Linked DNA regions of Homo sapiens. The protein of the gene in region 2 purifies or fractionates together with the protein of the main gene of each other region. This does not show direct contact. Each region holds a gene or a part of one and is shown on either strand. Other genes may lie near its edges. The genes, in order: TMEM230, SLC35F5, ATP2B1, ATP2C1, KDSR, ABCB10 and ATP13A3.

What was found.
Region 1: the proteins of SLC35F5 (region 2) and TMEM230 purify together in Homo sapiens (affinity purification with mass spectrometry; one large-scale study listed by BioGRID and IntAct). This does not show direct contact.
Region 3: the proteins of SLC35F5 (region 2) and ATP2B1 purify together in Homo sapiens (affinity purification with mass spectrometry; one large-scale study listed by BioGRID and IntAct). This does not show direct contact.
Region 4: the proteins of SLC35F5 (region 2) and ATP2C1 purify together in Homo sapiens (affinity purification with mass spectrometry; one large-scale study listed by BioGRID and IntAct). This does not show direct contact.
Region 5: the proteins of SLC35F5 (region 2) and KDSR purify together in Homo sapiens (affinity purification with mass spectrometry; one large-scale study listed by BioGRID and IntAct). This does not show direct contact.
Region 6: the proteins of SLC35F5 (region 2) and ABCB10 purify together in Homo sapiens (affinity purification with mass spectrometry; one large-scale study listed by BioGRID and IntAct). This does not show direct contact.
Region 7: the proteins of SLC35F5 (region 2) and ATP13A3 purify together in Homo sapiens (affinity purification with mass spectrometry; one large-scale study listed by BioGRID and IntAct). This does not show direct contact.

The regions. Positions count from the first base shown.
Region 1 is NC_000020.11:5,106,577-5,110,076, reverse strand, and holds part of TMEM230 (transmembrane protein 230), read left to right. Parts: intron 1-631; coding exon of another isoform or gene 632-646; coding exon 647-745; intron 746-3,500.
Region 2 is NC_000002.12:113,718,643-113,722,142, forward strand, and holds part of SLC35F5 (solute carrier family 35 member F5), read right to left. Parts: intron 2,727-3,500; exon of another isoform or gene 2,648-2,726; intron 667-2,647; coding exon 512-666; intron 1-511.
Region 3 is NC_000012.12:89,587,549-89,590,693, reverse strand, and holds the end of ATP2B1 (plasma membrane calcium-transporting ATPase 1), read left to right. Parts: 3' UTR 1-2,645; downstream 2,646-3,145. UniProt on the Homo sapiens protein: Catalyzes the hydrolysis of ATP coupled with the transport of calcium from the cytoplasm to the extracellular space thereby maintaining intracellular calcium homeostasis.
Region 4 is NC_000003.12:130,995,084-130,998,583, reverse strand, and holds part of ATP2C1 (calcium-transporting ATPase type 2C member 1), read right to left. Parts: intron 2,542-3,500; coding exon 2,473-2,541; intron 1,905-2,472; coding exon 1,788-1,904; intron 979-1,787; coding exon 831-978; intron 291-830; coding exon 195-290; intron 1-194. UniProt on the Homo sapiens protein: ATP-driven pump that supplies the Golgi apparatus with Ca(2+) and Mn(2+) ions, both essential cofactors for processing and trafficking of newly synthesized proteins in the secretory pathway.
Region 5 is NC_000018.10:63,357,207-63,360,706, reverse strand, and holds part of KDSR (3-ketodihydrosphingosine reductase), read left to right. Parts: intron 1-914; coding exon 915-971; intron 972-3,500.
Region 6 is NC_000001.11:229,518,395-229,520,707, reverse strand, and holds part of ABCB10 (ATP-binding cassette sub-family B member 10, mitochondrial), read left to right. Parts: intron 1-1,832; coding exon 1,833-1,867; intron 1,868-2,297; coding exon 2,298-2,313.
Region 7 is NC_000003.12:194,442,003-194,445,502, reverse strand, and holds part of ATP13A3 (polyamine-transporting ATPase 13A3), read left to right. Parts: intron 1-716; coding exon 717-778; intron 779-3,500. UniProt on the Homo sapiens protein: ATP-driven pump involved in endocytosis-dependent polyamine transport. Uses ATP as an energy source to transfer polyamine precursor putrescine from the endosomal compartment to the cytosol.

The DNA.
Region 1 (3,500 bases), on a different chromosome or scaffold from region 2:
TCCAAAAAATACAAACAAACAACAACAACAAAAAAACCCCACAAATTTACGGCAAGAAACTTTACAGATCTTTTGCATTAAAAGGTTGATCTCTATCAAGGGGAAATAGGCAAAATGCTGATGTGAGTGTATTCCATTCTCTGCCCTCTTCTCCCTCCCTGTCAAACAAGAGAATCATTTGAGTATATGCTCCTCTTGCTTTTTCTTAAGAGCGGGAGCAGGGGACAGGCAATGCTGTGGTGTCAGGTGGACCTAGATTTAAGTCCCCATTATTCTACCTAGTCTCTATGTGACTTTGGAAAAATTAAAAGTCAGGGAATCTTGGTGGCAAAATAAACTGGAATGTGATTCTTGGTGAGTGTCTTCACTGTCATTCTACAAGGACAGACCAGACTAGATATTTAATACATAGTGAGAATCTTTTCACTGTGTCAGAGGCATATCTGGTTTTCCATATGCATATGCCTCTGACACAATGAAAATTTAGCAGTGAAGTGTAAATTGCCCATTGCTAGTCTGACATGGCAGCCCAGAACTCCAGTGCACAGCATCTAATAATCCTGAACTCATTGGCTATAATGCACCATTGTCATCTACAGACAATAACGGGTTTTTTGTTTTTAAACTGTAGCTGTGTCAGCGTGTTATGATGCCGTCCCGTACCAACCTGGCTACTGGAATCCCCAGTAGTAAAGTGAAATATTCAAGGCTCTCCAGCACAGACGATGGCTACATTGACCTTCAGGTAAATGCAGAAGAGAACTGACAAGACTGACTGGCTGTGTTTCTGTTAAGTTAGCAGGAAGACCTTCCAGATGGAGATTTTGCTAACTGTCCTTGGGGATTAGAAGGAGCAACAAGAAGAAAACTCAGCTCTGAGACCCTTTCAGCCATAATCGCAGAAGAGGGCCGTGGCAGGGTAGTTTCAAACCAATTCCAGTATTGTCCATTTCTAAGAATTTTTAGTTGTAATGCGAGAGCCTTGTAGTTACAGGTTTTATTTACTTTATTCAGAAACTAATCAGATTGTGTTTTGTTAAGTGGAGTTTTTTGTTGTTGTTTCTTTTTTTAAGGAACTTTAAAATTTTTGTTAGGTGGAATTTTTTTTATCACTGTTTATTTACACTTTAGTCAAAGCCCGTTCACCTTTTAAGGGAGAAACTTATTACTAAAGCCAGCAGATTGTGGGAATCTTCCTTCTTTCCTGATGTCATGAGATCCAATTTATTAAAGGTATTCTTTGTGATAAATAGTAAGTAAAACACAGTATTTATTAAGTTTGTATCCTACCCTAACCATTTATAAACTAGTCAATACTACAGCATCTCCTTTTGCACACTTCCCCTTACAATAGAATGTTCTACGTGGAACTAGGGCCAACGAGGAAGTAGCAGGAAACCATCCTTTATAAATAAATAAATTACTCTTTGGACCCACATTTGAAGGAGAGATAAAAATAGATCTGGAAAGATCTGGGAAGCTTCCAGCCACTTAGGTCAGATACAACGATGAGCCAAACCTTGGAAAATTTGTCTCTGAATCTTAACCTTGAATTGAATTTGTTCATAAGGCAGGTTTACTTGCTATGTGGAACAAACAACTAATCATTTGGAATAAGCTGAAATTGCCTTCTTTTCCTTTTTTTTTTTTTTTTTTGGAGACGGAGTTTTAGTCTTGTTTCCCAGGCTGGAGTGCAGTGGCACAACCTCGGCTCACTGCAACCTCTGCCTCCCAGGTTCAAGCGATTCTCCTGCCTCAGCCTCCCAAGTAGCTGGGATTACGGGCATGCGCCACCACGCCCAGCTAATTTTGTATTTTTAGTAGAGACAGTGTTTCTCCATGTTGGTCAGGCTGGTCTTGAACTCCTGACCTCAGGTGATCATCCTGCCTCGGCCTCGCAAAGTGCTGGGATTATAGGCGTGAGCCACCTTGCCCAGCCTCTTGTTTTGTTTTGTTTTGTTTTTAAGATGTAGTCTTGCTCTGTTGCCCAGGCTGGACTGCAGTGGTGCAATCCTGGCTCACTGCAACCTCCCCCTCCTGGTTCAAGTGATTCTTGTACCTCAGCCTCCCTAGTAGCTGGGGGATTACAGGCATGCACCACCATGCCTGGCCAATTTTCGTATTTTTAGTATAGATGGGGTTTCGCCATGTTGGCCAGGCTGGTCTCGAACTCTTAACCTCCAGTGATTCACCCACTTCGGCCTCCCAAAGCGCTGGAATTACAGGCGTGAGTCACCGCGCCCAGCCTTTTTTTTTTTTTTTTGAGACAGGGTCTTGCTCTTTTGCCCAGGCTTGGGTACAGTGGCACAATCAAGACTCACTGTAACCTTGACCTTCTGGGCTCAAGTAGTCTTTTCACCTCAGCCTCCTGAATAGCTGGGACCACAAGCATGTGCCACCACACCCAGCTAATTTTAAAATTTTTTGTAGAGACAGGATCTCTTAAATCCCCATAAGTTAGTACAGCCATCTATGTGCCAGGCAGTTAATAAATATATATCTAACAAATGAATGACTGTAAAGTCATTTCTGTTTTTGTTTTAAAGAAAAGTTTCTTATGATACAATGAATGATTTATGGAATGAGATTCGAACTAGAGTGAATGACATTCCTCTGAGATTCCTTTGAGTAACTGTGAGAGCAATAACTAGAGCTTCATCTCTTGCCAGTCCCTTTTATTTCTCAGAGCTGCACTGGGTGGTAGGACATACTTAAGACACATAAAGTATCTAGTTTGGTTCTTAATTACCCTCCTGTTTTTGCTGTTGTTGTATTTGAAACAGGCTCTGGCTCTGTCACCCAGGCTGGAGTGCAGTGGTGCAATCTCAGCTCGCTGCCTCTTCACCTCCTGGGCTCAAGCCATCCTCCCAGCTTAGCGTCCCAAGTAGCCGGGACTGCAGGCACATGCCACCACGCCCGGCTAATTTTTGTATTTTTTGTAGAGACGAGGTTTCACCATGTTGCTCAGGCTGGTCTCAAACTCCTGAACTCAAGTGATCCGCCTGCCTCAGCCTCCCACATTGCTGGGATTACAGGTGCGAGCTCTCCTCCCTGTTTTAAAGTGTTTGAGACTGGGCTTGATGGCTTATACCTGTAATCCCAGCACTTTGGGAGGCAGAGGTGGAAGGACTCCCTTGAGCCCAGGAGTTGGAGACCACCCTGGGCAACATAGTGAGACCTCGTCTCTACAGAAAAATTTAAAAATTAGCTGGGCATGGTGACGTATACTTGTAGTCCCAGCTACTTGAGAGGATGAGGCAAGAGAATTGCTTGAGCCCAGGAGTTCGAGGCTGCAATGAGCTGTAATTGCACCACTGCACTCCAGCCTGGGTGATAGAGCAAGACTCCGTCTCTAAAATCATAAAAATTAGGCCGGGCGCGGTGGCTCACGCCTGTAATGCCAGCACTTTGGGAGGCCGAGGCGGGCGGATCACCTGAGGTCAGGAGTTCAAGCCCAGCCAGGTCAACAAGGTGAAACCCTGTCTCTACTAAAAATACCA
Region 2 (3,500 bases):
AAATTAGCTGGGCATGGTGGTGCATGCCTGTAATCCCAGCTACTCAGGAGGCTGAGGCAGGAGAATCACTTGAACCCAGGAGGCAGAGGTTGCAGTGAGCTGAGATCGTGCCATTGCACTCCAGGCTGGGCTACAGAGCAAGACTCTGTCAAGAAAGAGAAAAAAAGAAGAAAGAGAAGAAAGAAAGAGGGAAAGAAAAGGAAAGAAAAAGAGAGAGAAAGAAAAAGAAAGAAAGAAAGAAAGAAAGAAAGAAAGAAAGAAAGAAAGAAAGAAAGAAAGAAAGAAAAAGAAAGGAAGAAAGGAAGGAAGGAAGAAAGAAAGAAAGAAAGGAGAAAGAATCTTATTACCCAAAAGATCTAAACCAATTATTTTATTTTCATCTGCCGTAACATATAAGTTATCATCTTTCAATAATTCCTCACAAAATCTCTAAAAGCTAGGCCAGCATGATGCAATTCTCAGTTATCTAGCAAACACTATTTTTAAAAATGTGTATTGGGACTAAACTTACCTCTGAATTCGATGTTTTCTGCATATAAAAGCAAATATTCTTCTGATTCCCACCATCACAGGATCCCAATTATTATAATGGCATAGGAGAGTTACAATAAAAAATGAAAAAAATACAGGGATAGCTCCTGCAAAAAATAACCAAGAAAACTGCACCTAAAAATAAAAGATAGAGGAAAAAACACACCCACAATTATCATTAAGGCAATTTTCCCCTTCAATGTAAGTTTTCTATTTGTGAAAACTAGCAGGAATAAGAACAATGGGAAGACAAAATTAAACACTGACAATGTATTAAGTGTATTATTATTAAATAAGAATTCAAGACTTCAACTTACTATTCCATGCACCTAAATTACCAACAACAATAGTTCTTGCTTGGAAAATAGGCTAAAGGAAAGCCAAGAAAGCATACTTTCCATTTATAGGCATTGTACACTTAGAGTAGAGATATACAGTAGGAAACTTTGCTCCTGCACACCATGTTGCTCATTTCTTCTTCACTGTTTGCTGCCTAGTCTCAAGTGGGTCTCTCTCCCTCAGTTTCTGAAGTCATCTTCAAAAAATGTATATTTTCGTAAAAAGTTACAGTTGTAGTATGCTGTGTATGCTACAGTCCTTATGACAGTACCAAAAACAAATTAAGTGCAAATTTGACACTCAAAACTCGCTTATCTAGTAATAAATGAAAAAAGCTCAAAATGAAATAATGACCAAATAAAATAAAGAAAAAAATATAGAAATATTTTTACTAAGGAATGTTAGCCAGAGAAGACAAGCAACAAGACAAGCCTCATCAGTGATGTCAACAAGTCTGATCCTCCAATCCATCATTTATCAGAGTTGTCAAGAAAATAAAAAATATCTGTAAGTAGGGTGGAGGTATTAAAATCAAAAAGAAAAAAAAATAAGAAAAACAAATATATAAATAAAAAGAAAATAAAAAATAATGAGATGCCATCCAAAACAAAACTCATTCTTCCCTTTCACTAGTTCACTTTTACCATCTAGACTCAGCTAAAGATCAGAAACGATTGTCAAAGAAGCCTACACTGATCAACCACTGAGACTTAAGTGTAACACACAGGAGGTTTGCTTTAAAAATAATGATGAAAATAGTAACTTCTATCTATAAAATAGGAAAGGAAAACTGTGTTTGCCCTCTTTGAGAATTAAAAAAAAAAAAAAAAGGGCATGGAATCATAGGTAAGACTCCCTCTGGTGGAAAACATATACTATTCCATTTCATAGCACCATTAGTCAGAGTAAACGAGTTTTGTGAGCATAATGTCTTTTATGAGGGAACTCACAATGCATAACACAAGAATAATAACTGACAATTTTTAACATGCATGCCCTATTTCTATGGTATTCATATACAATGACTGAGTCAGCCTAAGAAGACCCCGGAAAGAATAGTCATTAAACTGAAAAGCCTTCATTTAGTTATGAAATTACCAATATATTTTAACATATTCCTGGAATATTTGCCAGAATGACTAATAATCAGGAAAAACCATGCTGCATTTAAATTATCCAAGATCAGAAAAGGTATTAAGAAGTTATAAATAATGCGATTAAAAATGTAGATATAGTTGATAGAATTATTTCATGAATATTCAACTAAAAACCTTATTTCATAACTGAATCAAAGCAAACTTAATAAAGATAGATAAAGCCCTAGAAGACTTTAGAAGGCAAGTTCACTTTCCACAATGTAGCTGTTTATATGTTGTCTCATAATAAAAAACTTCTAATTTGATTTCCAACAAGCTAAGACAAAAGAAACGAAGCCATTTATTACAACAAAGAAAATTACCTATGTAAACAAAATTTTTTTTTCTAATTCCTAAATATATCTGAATATCAAATAGAATATGATCAAGGATGCTTTCTATTATATAAAATGATTATAAATAGATTTAAATAACCAATTTGTTTCAAGCACAATGTTAATAAATGCTAACATTTCAGAAGCTATATATAAATACAGTTAGCTAATTAAACCTAAAAACCCTATAAAAGTAGATTTCTCTTATGTTTGTGTTACAGTTCTGGACACACACTGCTGCTTTTTCCAGATGGAATCTCCCTAACCTCAATCCTGACACCAACACACAGCCTGCTCCTTTAACTGACTGCCCAGTTCTAGATATGAAGACAATCAAGAACACCAAATCTTTTCTTGATTGTCTTCATATCCAGAACTGGGCAATCAGTTAAAGTTTGGTTATGTTTTTATAATTAATTGCATGTGCATACATTTCCCCGTTTTGTCTTTACCCTAAAATACTTTATTAAACAAATTATAACCATTATTGTTTGTAATGATAATTATGAAATGACTAATCATTTAATACAATTAGGTCCCCTGTGACTATTTTCTTAAAAATTCCTGAACATTAAGCTGCAATTTTTTTCAATCTACGAAAGCTTTTGTTTTTAAAATATCAGTACAATAAAGATGATTTACACAGTAGTCTACCAAAATCCTCTAACAAGTAGCACCTTCCCAGTTTCACAACCAGTTTGGTTCATATTCAGGATTATGACCTGAAGATGAAGAAGGGCCTAGATATTACTTAAATCTATAAAAGAATGATGTGTAATAATGTGCAATGTTAGTGTTATATGGAATATCCACATTCTTTGAAAATGCAAGTTATGTAAGATAATTAATTCTCAATTAAGGAAAGAATCTCAGTTCTTTAACCATGACAAATAAGAATTTACTGACCATAAAACAAAGTTAAATATCAGTAAAGAATTATTTTATAAATAAAGAGGATATAGAGCACTAAGCATATTTTGCTTTTATCTTTTTTTTTTTTTTTTTTTTTGAGATGGAGTCTTGTTCTGTTGCCCAGGCTGGAGCGCAGTGGCATGATCTTGGCTCACTGCAACCTCCGCCTCCCGGGTTCAAGTGATTCTCCTGCCTCAGCCTCCCAAGTAGCTGGGATTACAGGTGCACGCCATCACACCCAGCTAAT
Region 3 (3,145 bases), on a different chromosome or scaffold from region 2:
AGCAGAGCTTTAGTTTATCTCAGTCCTGGATGGGAGAGAGAGGGAGGAGTAAAACTGGGCAAGACAAAGAGCCCTGGATCGTTGAATTGATAGTTTAATTTCTGCTGTTGGCTGTTAATAATTTGGATTATTTATGTTTATAAATGATACAGATCTGTTTACAAGGTTTGTAGATACTTTTTTTGTTCCTGTTCATAGATGGGAAGCTTCCTTATAACTGATGCAGAGAAAAATTAGTCCTTCAAATACTGCTGTATTTTCAGGAAAAAAAAAAAAAGGGGTGTTTCTATTGAAACTGTACTAAATTTTTGCCTACAATTTACCTTGTTAAATATTGTAGATAAATTGCTAATACTAATAGCCAAATAGATAACACTAATGCTTTGTTTAAAAAAACGAAAAAAACAAAACAAAACAAAAAAACATGAGCAGTGGTGTTCTAATGAAGTTATGACATCTGTCCTAATTAGTTTCTTAAATACATTTACTACTTAATGGTTTTGAAGCAACTGTTTAATTTTTAAAATTTTTGAAAACTTGCTAATAACCTTTTGTTCAGAATTTAGTAGATTGTTTAATGCAGGACATCAACTACATAATGAAAGATGCTTGAAATGCTTTTGTTATTTCAGGCAAATCAAATTAAATCAGACTATCAAACTACAAGAGAACCTTAGTCTTTTTTGTTTTTGTCTAAACATGTTAGTTTAGTGATGTCTTGGTGAACTGTGAGTGAACTGTATTGATTTTTCTAATCTTTAGAGACCTTCACACAGCATGAGGGCTGTTGGCATTTTGAAAAAGGTTAATAAGTAGAAGCATACATGTTTTCCTTTTGTTTTTGAAACTTGTTTGTAAACATAAATAAATATGCCCTTTTATTAAATAAATTCATGGCAATGTTTTTTTAAAAGACATTTCAGCTTCTTTACTCAGTTCTGCATATACAGTGCATCAGTCTGTTCTCTTTGACCACAATTGGAATACATTTCAAGATGGTAACAGCCCCATGAAGTACCGCTTTAATTCCTTGCTGGTAATCTAATAGAATCAGATTAAGAAAATTAACACAATTTTACCATTTGACATACTCTTCATTGAATTTAGTTTGTCTAAAATAGTCTCACAGGTAAAAAACATAACAACAATGACCACCATTGTCTTTGATACATTTATTTTAATTCTTAAGTGGCCAAATAACAGATTAGGTAAAATGAGATTACATGAAAAGGTTCTAAAATGATATATTTAGATGCAATAATTAACCATATGCTAGAATGCCCACCTCTAAGCCAATTGGATTCTTTAGCTCTCTTTTTCTTTCCTTCATCTACCTTCTTCTCTTTTTTGCCTCTGTCTTTACCCTTTAGAAACTGGCATGTGTTAGGGCCCAGATTTCACCAGATACACAATCCTCAGGCTGACATAAAGTTTACGAGGACTGCTACTATAACTGAGAGTGCTGACCAAGCAAAGAAACATTTAGTTGATGGTGCTTGATATTTTTGGTGGGTGGGGGAAATCTTTTTCTCACCATCAAATCTTTGCAGTAATCCTCTGCAGGTCTTAGAAACACATTGGCTCTGTCAGCATTTGTAATTGTACATTTATTCATCAGGTATTTATAGTGAATCATACTGTAAAAAAGAGGTAGCATGATATGCTGGAAAGCATATTAGACTAGGAGTCAAGACCTGGTTTCTAGTCTTGGTTTTGCCATTAATGTGCTGCATGATCTTGGGAAAATCATTTACCCTAAATAAGGGTGGTGGACTATCTTGAAGAACCCTTTCAACTCTAAAAATTGACCCTATCAACTGGAGAGCCCACAAGGCATAGGGAATAGAGAAAAGGGAAATGTTTTCAGTTTTCTTTTTTATTTTGGTTATGCTTAAATATGAATGTAATTACCAAAAGATTTAGAAGTGCATGTGCTTTGGAGGATTTGTATTGAGCTTTTACAGTATTCATTTTTCAACTCAAGGCAATGGCTTTCTACACCAACTCTAATCCATAAACGGGTCTTATGACATCTATGAAGTAGTAGCAAGACATGCTTAGTGTGTATTTCTCTCTTTGAGACACTGTAATTTCTACCAGAAATTTCCAGAGCATTATGTAGGTAGAAAAAAATGCAAGCAAGCTGTTAAAGATCTTGGATCCCATTATATAGTATGTATAGCTGAAATCTGTAATTCAATCACTTTTTCTCTTTTATCCTCTAACCAAAAAATTGTTTAATTTTGCATCCCAAATGTTTTTAATCTTTGTATATTTTTTAAAAATCCTTTTCTCCTCATCATTGCCTTTTTTGTGGTTGTAAATAGACTTACTTGCACTTTGAAGATGAGTTACTCCTTGTCATCTTACAAATATGTGATATGGTAATTTTCATAACAGATGTCAGTTTTGAACCAAGAATTGGTGATTTGTTTATAAGAAAAAAACTGGCTTCATTTCTGTGAAATTGCTCTTTGAAAATTTCTTTTTACACGTGTAAGCCAACTGAGATACCGTGATGGTGTTGATTTCTTTCAATGATGCTTACCATCTATTTTAGCCACTGAGCCTTTTATTATTTGTCTATTTGTAAAGTTTATTTGTCTTAACTCATTTAATAAATATACTGTTTATCTGTTTCTGAATGGGGACTGAACTTTTTGGATATTGATATTGATTTGAAAATATTTTGGAATTTTTTCTACTTGAAATTTTAGAAATCTAATTGAAAATTCTATAATGTACTTGAAATGTTATGGTTGTGTTACAGTGAATCACTCTTCTAATAATATGCATGATCTTGCCTCTAAAATGAGAGTGGGTACATTGTCCCTACTCTCCAACCCACTGTCCTCAACCCTTATAGCACAATAGATCATTTCTGCAGTCTATGGGAATGTAATCTGCTGGTTTTAGTACAGATTAGTTTTTCACATTAGCTGTAAGAGCTTATTTTTATTTCATTATCCATACTTGTCAATACCAGTTATCTGAACTCTATGGTAAAAATTAATAAAATTATCCATAGTTGTTTTTTATAATAAGTTATTAATATAAACTAGCAACTTTGTTGAAATACTGAGTAAACTTTAAATGATGATGAATACCATATTTTTCAGTTAGTATAAATCATTAGTAAATTATT
Region 4 (3,500 bases), on a different chromosome or scaffold from region 2:
AGCTTACCTCCCACAAATGCCCCATCCTCATTGTGACCAATGGCACATGTTTATAAGAAGGCTGTGTCTGGGGCTGCAATCTGTGGCTACAAAATTAAGCAAAGCTAAAAACCCATAATCTTTGCCTACTTATTAGAAAGCACTCTACTCAAGTGAGTCAATCAAGTCAATCAACTAAGTTCACCTAAACATACCTGGGATCTGGAACTTAGTGCATTGAACATGTCAAAAAACACAAAGCATGTGAAGGTCATTGTTGTGTCTCGAGGTGTAATCACATTGTCTCGTAGCTGTCAAGAGGCAATAACAAAATTACTTTTCAGTGGCTGAATTTAATGGATAAATCGCTGCTTTTTAAAAAATATAAACATTTTCTTTCCATTAGGAAGAAATAACTTTAGCCTAACACATGAAACATAAAAGCTACCTAAATTTCCTATAAATCACCTAGTGAATAGCTGTAATCTACATAATAAAAAGTAAAAAAAAAACTTCTCATGAACTATGTATTAGATATTAAAATACTGTTATTATTTAAAAATAATAAAGTGGCTCTATGATTTTAAGACTCAGATTTTCCAACTTCTCTCTAAATTTTCATGTATTTTTATTGTAACTGATACTTCTCTGCAGATTTATTCTAATACATGAATCAATAATTTTATTTATCCATAAAGATGGAAATCAAACTCTTTTAAAATGTTCTTATATTTTTCACTAAAAGAGCTCCCTTAACTTCCCAGCCTTCTGGGTAACCCATCAAAATAACTAAGAATCCTATCAGATATACAGAATTCATGTTAATATAGCAGCTTGGCCAGTGAATATACCTCACGCCAGAAGACAAACAAAGTCCCACAAACAATGATTATTGATGAAACAAGTATTTTAAGTATCAAGTTTTTAGTCAAAATGCTGTCTTTCCAGTTGCGAGGAGGTTTACGAATGACATCTTTATCCACTGGTTCTACTCCAAGGCTTAAAAACAAACAGAAAAATAAATTACTTTCAAGTTTTAAGGTCTGGATTTGTTACTTTCACAACCTCACTAACCTCAATTATTCGGCAAACTAAATGCTTTCTTATAGAAACAAAATGTTGCATCATAAAACGCTGGCTGATTACGCAAAAATAACCACTGATTTTGTCACTTTTTCTCTCCTCTTTATTTGTTTGGCACAATTTGATAGGGGATAGATAATCAACTTTCAAAAAACCATCCAATTCATTTACATGTAAGTTTACCTATTTCAAATACGGTGTGAAATACATGACCTACCGACTGAATTTTGAAATATCTTTCATATAAAGAGGTTTTAACTGGGATGATTTGCTGGAGTGGCCAAATGACATCTATCACTCAACTACCCCATTATTATTAAATTTTTTAAAAAAGTTATGACACTCAGGTCCTCTAATACTTTCCCAAAGTCTCTAAAACTGACAGTAGAACCTAGATAATAAAACTGAACCCAGAAATTTCTCCATTATACCCATTTCTTAGAAATAAAAGGCTTACTTACTTCCTGAGGACAGGGATAGCACCTATTCCTGATCTATTCTCAACCTTAGGCTAGGCATCTAACAGTGGAAAGGCTCAGATCTACACTGCATGCACACTCAAAAAGAATTAATAAAATACACACATCACACAATTTATAACATAAATGTTAAAACATTTGCTGCAAAGTTTTCCAACACTGTCCATAAATCAAGTTTTAAAACTTAATTATCAGGGTAGTACACATTCCTTGTCTTTCCAGCTCATGCAATTAAAAAACTCGTACCTCTGAGCTGGGGGTCCATCCATAATAATATTGATCCACAAAATCTGCATGGCATTGAGAGGATTAGGAAAGTTCATTAATGTAGCCAATGAGATTAAAGTTAATGCTGCTATACTCCTGTTGAAAAAGAGAGTCATTTAAAAATATCAGTAGAGTAAATCTGTTGATTCTATGATACCACTTTTTTAGCATTTAAAAATCTCTTACTACTATGCTTTTAAAGGAAGACTGTTTCAAGTAAACTATTCTTCAGTCACGTGGACATTTTAAAGCTAAGAGTATTTTAACAAAGGATTTTCAAGATGTTTAGACAACAGGAACAAATAAAGAATTTTTACATCTGCATGATAGTTTCAACAATATTTTGGTAACTGTTCTTTGACTACACAATACCCCTTCTACTTTTGGAAAAAGATACCAAGAGGAAACAATGAGATGTGAGCTATTAAATAAATCACAAAGATTTATACATTTTGATGATACAGACATCTAACTGTTACATTTACAACCTATTTATCATGCCATTTAAAATTTCAGAATACAATAAATTTTCTTTTTGGAAAACTGACATATGAACAATGCTCACAAATATAAGGCAGAGAAGTTTCTAGGCATTCTGCTTAAGTTCTACTTTTCATATAATTTATCCAGAAGACCCATGGTGACAAATTTCTTGCAAACTTACGTGCTCAGCTGGAATCTAACGAAATTTTTAATGTTATTATAAATCCCTTTACCCTCTTCGATTGCAGACCTGAAATTTAAAAAATAAAGATGAAGTGAGAAAATATTATCATACAAAAATGTATCTATACTAAAACACTGTAGAGCTAATTTTGAAAATAAATTTCCAACCGGGCACTGTGGCTCATGCCTGTAATCCCAGCACACTGGGAGGCCGAAACTGGCAGATCACCTGGGGTCACGAGTTCGGACCAGCCTGGCCACCATGGTGCAGCGAAACTCCGTCTCTACTAAAAATACAAAAATTAGCCGGGTGTGGTGGCGCATGCCTGTAATCCCAGCTACTCGGGAGGCTGAGGCAGGAGAATCGCTTAAACCCGGGAGGCGGAGGTTGCAGTGAGCCAAGATCACACCACTGCACTCCAGCCTTGGCAACAAAGTGAGACTGACTCAAACAAACAAACAAATAAATAAAATAAAATTCCAACTAATACAACACATGTATCAATATGGAAACATTTATTTTAGCAAAGAATTAAAGTCAAGCCTAAGCTCTACCTGAACTAATTTGTCACAATATTAAAATTCTTATTCTGAAGAAGATACTTCAACATTAAAATCATGCATTGTCTCTTCACACAAGAGAAAATACTTCACATTCATAATACATAAAATGATTATCTTTTTTTTTTTTTTTTGAGACAGGGTCTTGCCCTGCTTCCCAGGCTGGAGCGCAGTGGCACAACCTTGACTTACCTGCAGCCTCGACCTTCTTGGCTCAAGCAATCCTCCAGCTCAGCCTCTAGAGTAGCTGAGACCACAGGCTCACATCACCACTCCCAGCTATTTTTTTTGTATTGTTTGGAGAGATGGGTTTTGACATGTTGCCTAGGCTGGTTTCGAACTCCTGGGCTCAAGTGATCCATCCACCTCAGCCTCCCAAAGTGCTGGCATTACAGGCATGAGGTACCCTGCCCAGCCATGATTATCTTCTTCACCTTCCTCTAAGCTCATTTTTCTTAGTGGTAC
Region 5 (3,500 bases), on a different chromosome or scaffold from region 2:
TTCACCATGTTGCCCAGGCTGGTCTCAAACTCCTGAGCTTGGGTGATCCACTCACCTTGGCCTCCCAAAGTGCTGGGATTACAGGGGTGAGCCACCATGCCTGGCTGAGAAATTCTTTCTTTTCTAATGTAATTTTTAATTCCAGTCTTTGCAAAGTCAAGCTGTATGTATCTTTAGTCATAGGACAATATTATTTCATTATAGACATATTCAGGTTTAGAAACTCTGCATGCCTTTTGGAAGAATTCGCCTCTCCTTTGGTTCCTCTCTATTGCATGATATTATTTAAGTTACTTTTTACAGCAAATTAAGATAATCTGATATCTGTTTTCTTGAGACTAAGTAAAACAAACAAAATTAGGACCTTGGAAGAATTACATAATTACACAGGTAACCTTGCTTAAGAGTATTTTATAGTAGCCAGGCCTAGTTTACCCAGTCTATCCAGAAAGTGATTCTTACTATGTTTGGGTTTATAGTAGAAGAAGAAAATATTGGACAAAAAGCAGTATTGACAGGGAGTCACACATACCCTCAACTTTGGGGAGCAGTACATATTAATAGAGTTGTTCTTGTCTTATATCACAACTAAATAATAAGACATTTATTAGAACTGTAGAGTCAGCCTCAGCAATTAGTACTGTTAACTGGGATTTTGAGGTTTATCTGTTTTCTACTATCTTTCTCTAATTAATTTTCAAACTTTTATCACTTATTCATAGCTTAACATACTTCACAACTTCTTTCTTTCATAGGCTGTGGCCCAGTCTGTCTATGCAATGTAGATACTGTTTTGTGTGTTTTCTGGAATTTAATACATACATATAGAAATAATTGCTTTTTTTCTCTCCTTTGCAATAAACGGACATGCATATAGACGGTCATCACGACTAATTATTCTGTATTGCTTTCAGGATAAGCTGCTGCAGGCAAAGAAAGAAATTGAAATGCACTCTATTAATGACAAACAGGTAAATCTCTGTCTTCAGAATGCATTTTCTGTATAACTCAGCACAGCTGTATAAAGGAAAAACAGAGTTACTTCACCTGTGAATAGTTAATTGAAAGCATATATGTACTGTTTTTTAAAAGGTGGAATTGTTTGAATGGTCTAGTAACTCAGAATATCACACACACGCAAAATGAATAGACTCCCACACACATTCATATCTACAAATGGTCAAATAACAGAATGTTTTACTGGCAAATAATTTCATTTTAATTTTTTTTTTAATGAACTTTATACAAATGCTTAAGAGGAAAGGAATATTTAAAATTTATTTGGTTATGGAATTTTTGATGAATAAAATGCTATTTATATTTCAGTATAAAACATAATAGCAAATTAATAATCACACACCCATCACCCAGCCTAAGAAGTAGAAATGATCAGGGTCTCTGAAGCCCCCACAGCAGCCTTGTCCCTCTTTTCTTGTTCCTAGAGGGGCAAATGCCAACCCGATTTTTGGTGTTAATCCTTTCTTTTTCTTTTCTTTTTTCTTTCCTTTTTTTTTTTTTTTTTTTTTTTGAGGCAGTGTCTCAATCTGTCATCCAGGCTGGAGTGCAGGGGTGCGATCTCAGCTCACTGCAGCCTCGACCTCCTGGGCTCAAGCAGTCCTCCCACCTCAGCCTCCCTAGTAGCTGAGATTATAGACACGTGCCATCATGCATGGCTAATTTTTGTATTTTTGGTAGAGATGGGGTTTCGCCATGTTGCCCAGGCTGGTCTTCAACTCCTGGGCTCAAGCAGTCCGCCTACCTCTGCCTCCCAAAGTGCTGGTATTATAGGAGTGAGCCACTGTGCCCTGCCTCTTTTTCTTTTTAATTTTACCATATATGCACATAACTCTAAATAATAATATATTGTTTAGTTCTTTTTTTTTTTTTTTTTTGAGACAGAGTCTCTCTCTGTCACCCAGGCTGGAGTGCAGTGGTGCCATCTTGGCTCACTGCAACCTCCACCTCTCGGGTTCAAGCGATTCTCCTGCCTCAGCCTCCTGAGTAGCTGGGATTACAGGTGTGTGCCACCACACCCGGCTAATTTTTTTTGTATTTTTAGTAGAGACAGGGTTTTACCATGTTTGTCAGGCTAGTCTCAAACTCCTGACCTCAGGTGATCTGCCTGCCTTGGCCTCCCAAAGTCCTGTGATTATGGGCGTGAGCCACCATGCCTGGCCAATATACTTAGTTCTACTTCTTTTATTATATCATTCTTATTTTTTAACAGCTTTATGAGATATAATTTATATACCATACAGTTGACCCATTTAAAATATATAATTCAATGATTTTTAATGTATTCATAGAGTTGTGCAACTGTCATCAAAATCAATTTTAGAATGTTTTCCTCACCCCGTGAAGAATCTCCATGTGTATTAGCAGTCACTTGCCATTTCCTCCCAGCCTCTTCTCAGCTAGGCAGTCACTCATCTACTTTCTTTCTCTATAGATTTGTATAACTTCCTTCTTTATGCTTCTTATGCAACTTGATTTCTTCACTCAATATTATTATTATTTATTTCTTATTTATTTATTTATTTTTGAGATGGAGTCTCGCTCTGTTGCCCAGTCTGGAGTGCAGTGGCACAATCTCAGCTCACTGCAACCTCTGCCTCCTGGGTTCAAGCCTCAGCTTCCTGGGTAGTTGGGATTACAGGCGCGCGTCACTACGCCCAGCTAATTTTTGTATTTTTAGTAGAGACAGGGTTTCACCATGTTGATCAGGCTGGTCTCGAACTCCCAACCTCGTGATCCGCCCGCCTCAGCCTCTGAAAGTGCTGGGATTACAGGTGTGAGCCACCATTCCCAGACCACTCAATATTATTCTTTAGGCCAGGTGCGGTGGCTCATGCCTGTAATCCCAACATTTTGAGAGGCCGAGACGGGCAAATCAGTTGAAGGTAGGTGTTTGAGATCAGCCTGGACAAAGTGGTGAAACCCTGTCTCTACTAAAAATATAAAAAGTTAGCTGCACCTGTAACCCCAGCTACTCAGGAGGGAGGCTGAGGCAGGAGAATCACTTGGATCTGGGAGGCAAAGCTTGAGGTGAGCAGAGATTGCACCGCTGTACTCCAGCCTGGGTAACAGAGGGAGACTCCATCTCAAAAAAAAATATATATATATATATATATATATGTATGTATGTATGTATGTATATATATGTGTATATATATATATAATTTTAAAAATTCATTTATGTTGCTGCAAAAAGTTGGAGTAAATTTTTTTTTTTTTACTGCTGCGTAGTATTCTATTGTATGTATAGACTACATTTTGTTCATCAGTTCAGCAATTGGTGGATATTTAGTTTGTTCCCAGTATTTTTGTTAGTTTGTTTTGTTTTTTACTATTAGAAAAGCTTTCAGTATTCTCTTTGTGCACGTGTGCAAGAATGGTACATACCCAGAAATGGAATTGCAGAGCTGTAGTGTATGCAGTTCTTCAACCTCACCAAAGTGGTTAAGCTCCCATAAGTAGGAATGCGGTTTCTGTTGCGCCAC
Region 6 (2,313 bases), on a different chromosome or scaffold from region 2:
AGTAGTATGGATGGATCCCTATTTGTTGATCTGTTCACCAGCTGATAAACGCTTGGGTCATTTCCAGTTTGGGGCTATTGTGAATAATATATAAAGAATAGTAGCTACCTTTTTGTGAGGGTGTGTGTTTTCATTTGCAAAGCTGGACTTGTAATGTTTTATCTACATCAGATTAGTCTCTTTTTTTTTTTTTTGGTCTCATGTGTTAGCTTTTCTTTTTTCTTTTTTTCTTTTTTTTGAGACAGAGTCTCGCTGTATCACCCAGGCTGGAGTGCAGTGGTCGATCTCAGCGCATTGCAAACTCTGCCTCCCAGGTTGCAAGTGATACTCATGCCTCAGCCTCCCAAGTAGCTGGGATCACAGATGCACGCCACCACACCCGGCTGATTTTTGTATTTTTAGTAGAGGTGGGGTTTCACCATGTTCGCCAGGCTGGTCTTGAACTCCTGACCTCAAGTGATCCACCCACCTTGGCCTCCCAAAGTTAGTTTATTATTTCTAAATTAACTATAAGCAGGACCTTGAAAGTTATAGACATATCTTTTTAATTTTAATTTAATTTTATTTTTAAATTTGTGACGGTCTCATTCTGTCACCCAGGCTGGAGTGCAGTGGTGTGATCATGGCTCACTTGTAGCCTTGACCTCCTGGGCTTCAGTAATCTACCTGTCTCAGCCTCCCAGGGAGCTAGGACTATAGGTGCATACCATACCAAACCCAGCTAATTTAAAAAAAAATTTTTTTGGTAGAGATGGGGTCTTGCTATTTTGCCCAGGCTGGTCTTGAACTCCTGGGCTCAAGCAGTCCTCCCCCCTCAGCCTGCCAGAGTGTTGGGATTACAGGTGTGAGCCACCGTACTCAGCCTTACTCATTTTATTTATTTATTTACTTACTTACTTACTTTATTTATTTATTTTCTGAGACAGAGTCTCACTCTGTCGCCCAGGCTGGAGTGCAGTGGTGTGAGCTTGGCTCACTGCAGCCTCCACTTCCCGAGTTCAAGCGATTCTCCTGCCTCAGCATCCAGAGTAGCTGGGATTACAGGCATGTGCCACCAGGCCAGCTAATTTTTTTGTATTTTTAGTAGAGACGGGGTTTTGCCATGTTGGCCAGGCTAGTCCCAAACTCCTGACCTCAGGTGATCCACCTGCCTCGGCCTCCCAAATTGCCGGGATTACAGTCGTGAGCCACCACGTCCGGCCATCTTACTCATTTTAGATTCTCATCTCACTGACCAGCAGGATAAAACTGTGCTATAAAGGATACCCGGTCTAGTGATTACTCTGATGGCAGGATAAAACTGTGCTATGAACGATACCTGGTCTAGTGATTACTCTGATGATCATTTAAAATAGTCTCTAATTCTTTCATTTATGTACTTATCCCAGACACTTAGTAATTTGTGGGGTTTTTTTGTAACAGCTTTGAGATATAATTCACATACTACATAATTTGCCCATTTAAAAAATAAATTCATTGGTTTTTAGTGTATTCTGTGTTGTGCATCCATCATCACAATTTTAGAAAACATTTTCATCACCCCCCCAGGGACCCTCTACTCTTTAGCAGCCATGCAACTCCCCTTCCTTATTTCCTGCATTGAACCCAGCCCCAGATATCCACCATCTGTAGAAGTGCCTGTTGTGGACATTTCATATAAGTGAACTCATACAGTATGTGATTCTTTGTGTCTGGCTTCTTTCACTTAGCATAAGTTTCCAAGGCTCATCCACATTGTAGCATGTGTCAGAATTTTATTCCTTTTTTATTGCTGAGAGTTTGTATTTTTCCAATAAAATTATTTTATCTTTTCCTTTTTTTTCCTTCTTCAGAATCCCAAAATTCTTCTCCTAGATGAAGCAACCAGGTGAGGATATCTTAATAATATATGCCATTGTGTGTATTAAACCAAATTCTTCCTTCACCAAAACACTTTTAATTCTGTACCTCAAAGTGATACAACTGAAAATCCTTTTTCCCCCCTTTACTCTAAAGTGAGGGAAGCTGAATTAATAATGACAGTTGAAAACCAGTGGGCAGACTGAGTCCTAGTTGAGAGTTCTAGGTCCACTTCAGACATGGTTGCCATCAATCCTAATCACTCTGTAAGCTGTAACTGTGCAGAATGCTTTTCTCCTTACATCACAGTATAGTTTTATGGAGATCAGAAAGTCCTAAACAGTTGAAATTTTGATCATGGTAAAAATTCATTGCTCAGGAAGGGCTGCTGTGTGTATCAGGAAGCACATGGGTGTCACTGACGTCTTTGCTTTCTTGTGTGTGTGCTCCTGTGTCAGTGCGCTGGATGCCGAA
Region 7 (3,500 bases), on a different chromosome or scaffold from region 2:
ATCTATCTGCTCATTTTGAAGGGGACAGCATCAGACATTATTTCACTCATAACTACCTTAGTATGTGTCTAGAGGATATTTAAAATATCACTATCACATTTAACAGAATTAGCAATTCTTTAGTTTTTCTAATATCCAGTTGAGATTTCCTCATATCTCTAATTTTTACTAGTTGATTTTTCAGTCAGAATCCAAATAGGGATTACATTGCTTACAATTAACATGTAACAATTGCCTTTACTTACCCCTTATCTCCAGTTATTTTGTTGAAGAAACCAGGTCATTTACCTTGTGGATTTGGCCAGTTGCTTCCTCCTGATGTACTTTAACCTGTTCCTCTTGGCCCTCCTTATACAGTAATCCTTCCTTTTTTGCTTTATAGGCATCCTTTATTGATTGATAAGATAGGTTAACTGGTGCATCCTTCCATTGATTTTTTTTTTGATAGTATAAGCACGTAAATATATACCCCTCTCTGCCCTTACGCAGAAGATTTGTGATCATTGTTTGCACCCCCTCTCCCACTTTAACCATATGTCCTGGAAGCCATTCTCTGTCAGGGATCTTGCCTGTTTCTTTTTTTAACTCTGTAGAACTCCATTATGTTATATGTAGCATAGTTTCTAATGCTGTGTGGTTGCTTTTTATTTTTATTTTTGGGTTTTTTTTTGAGGCATCATCCATACTTTGTGCATGTGTGCTTTTTTGTTTTTTAGACTGGAACTCTAACTGAAGATGGTTTAGATCTTTGGGGGATTCAACGAGTGGAAAATGCACGGTAAATATTAGTTAGACTTGATAGTTTATTAGTTTATTTTTAATATTTTAACATGTGCAACATTCAAACATAAAGGAAGTAATAGACAACTGTGTACCTATACCAGGATTAAACCGTGGACATGTTGCCATATTTGCTTCAGATCGCTTCCTTTAGAATATTAAAATATTATAGAAGTTGCCAAAGTCCCACTGTATCCCTTCCCCAATTCCTACTGCCATTCTGAAATTATTTTTGCATATTTTATATTTTTTCTAAGTATAAATCTATAAATAAGTATCCATGAATGATATACTGTACATATGTTTTGCTGCTTTTTTCCCCTCTCCAAACTTTGTTTTCAAGATTTATCCATGTTGATATGTGCAGATCTAGTTTATTAATTTTAACTGCTCTGTCTTATTCCATTGAATGATTAAACCTTGTCTGTTCTTCTACTAAGGGACAATTCTGTTTTTTCTTCTTTTTTCTCTGCACTGTTGCAAATAGTGCTGGAATTAAAGTTCTTACACATAAGTCCTTGTAGGCATGTGGCTGAGTTTCAGTAAGCTAGATCCCTGTAAATGGAAAGGCTGGGCCGTAGCATGGGCACGGCTTCAGCTTTATGCTTTCTCTCTCAGTGGGTAAAGATCTTTTTACTCCACATTCTTGCCAAACTTAATATTGTCAGACTTGTAATTTTTGCCAGATGGATGGATATGAGTATTACATTGTGGTTTTTACATTCTTCTCATTTCTTATAAAATTGAGCATCTTTTCACATTTTGGAGGGAGGGTCATTTAGCATTCTTCTGTGTATTGTGTGTTTATATCCTCATTTTTCTGTTGGGAAGTCTATCTTATTTGTTAGAGGTCTTTTTTATTTTCTGGATAGGAATCTTTTTCAATATTGTGTATTGAAAATTATCCTATTAGTCTCTGGCTCATCTCTTTACTTTTGTTTCTGTTGCTTTTTGAAGCTCAGAAGTTTTACTCCTGTAGTTTTGTTTGTGTCTTCCCCCCTCCCCCTGTCAAAAGTCTGCTAAATTTTGGTGTATATAGCTTGAGAGACAGTATTGTTTGGCCAATGTAATTTCAAGAGTTGTTGTGTCTTGGAAAATAGTATGTCACGTTGTGACCTTTCTTATCTCTAGTAATGCATGTTGCCTTAAATTCTGTTTTGTCTTATAATTATATAGCTCTATACCAGCTTTCTTTTGCCTGATGTTTGCCTAGTGTGTGTTTTGCCACTTGTTTACTTTTCAGTCTTTCTGTGCCATGATGTGCACATTTATTCAGATATATTAGAAATTATTTCTACCATTGCTCCCCCAATTTACATACACATTTTCACATTCTCATTTTTTCTCTCATTTTCTCACTTTATGCATCCCAATCTTATACTGCTTGTTCTTACATTATCAATATTTATACTTAAAGTTCATGGATGTTAATACTGCCTTTTAACCACTCCCCTGCCCCCCAAAACAAACCTATGGACTGTAAGATACTTTTGGTTATTCTCCTCCCTTCCTATATGTATTTGTTGCATAATATTTTCTGATTATTATTTTGGTCTTATACAGTCTGCATGCTTAGATTTACCTAGGTGTACTAATGCCTTAACCATTGCATCTTGTGTAAATTGCCATCTTCTGTAACTACATTCATTTGCTTTGTTTCACTGTCACTCTTTTTTTTTTTTTTAAGTGAAAGCAAATTTAAGAAAGTAAAGGAATAAAGAATGGTTCCTTCATAGGCAGAGCAGCCCACTGTCACTTGGGTGGTAGTGTAACTATACAGATTTCTAGGTTTGACATTTGTGTTCTCTCAATACTATGAAGCTGTTATTTCATTTCTCTTAATACCTTTTGTTAATTGGTACTGATAAATCTTAGTCTTTTTAGTAATCTTTTTTTTCTCTGGTTGCTTGAAGAATATTTCTTCACCCTTAATTTCTGCAGATTCACTGTGATCTTTTTATTTGTGTGTACAGGATTCATGATGCTTCTTGATTTCATGCTTTCATGTTTTTCATAAATTCTGGAAAATTTTCAGGCCTTTTTTACTTCCATTATGGCCTTTTCCTTGTGTTTTGTTTTCTCTCCTTCTGGGAATCCTAACCATGTGTTGGACAACACATGGTTTACTTGGTTCTTTCCAAGTCTGCTCCCACCCCTACTCTCGCATCTACAGTGTCTTACTCTTTGTATGTCTAATTTTAAAATGCCCTTTTTGCATTCTTTCAGATTTGCCATTCTGTTATCTTAAATTTACGGGATTCTTTATTTTTTTATTTTAAACATAGGAATTGGTATGGGTGTCTCGCTATATTTCCCAGGCTGGTTTTGAACTCCTGGCCTCAAATGATCCTCCTGCCTCAGCCTCCCAAAATGCCGGGATGACAGGCATCAGCCACTGCCCCTGGCCAAATTTATAGGATTCTAATTCTGTCTTTGTTATGTCTGTTGACACTCTTGGTGAATTGTTTGCTAGCGCATCTTTAAATTATGGACTCATTCTTAACAGAATTTTCTTTGAGCTCCCCTCTGGAGAAGTTCTGACTTTGCTTGGCTAAGAGCCCCAGTGGTAATCAACGGTGTCATACAGGCTTTAACTGACCTCCTGTGTTTCAATCCTTGCTCTGCTACTTATGGACGGTGTAACCTGGGACAAGTCACTTAACCACCCTGCTTCAGTTTTCTCATCTATAATGGGGGTAATAAAACACCTTTTCTATGGT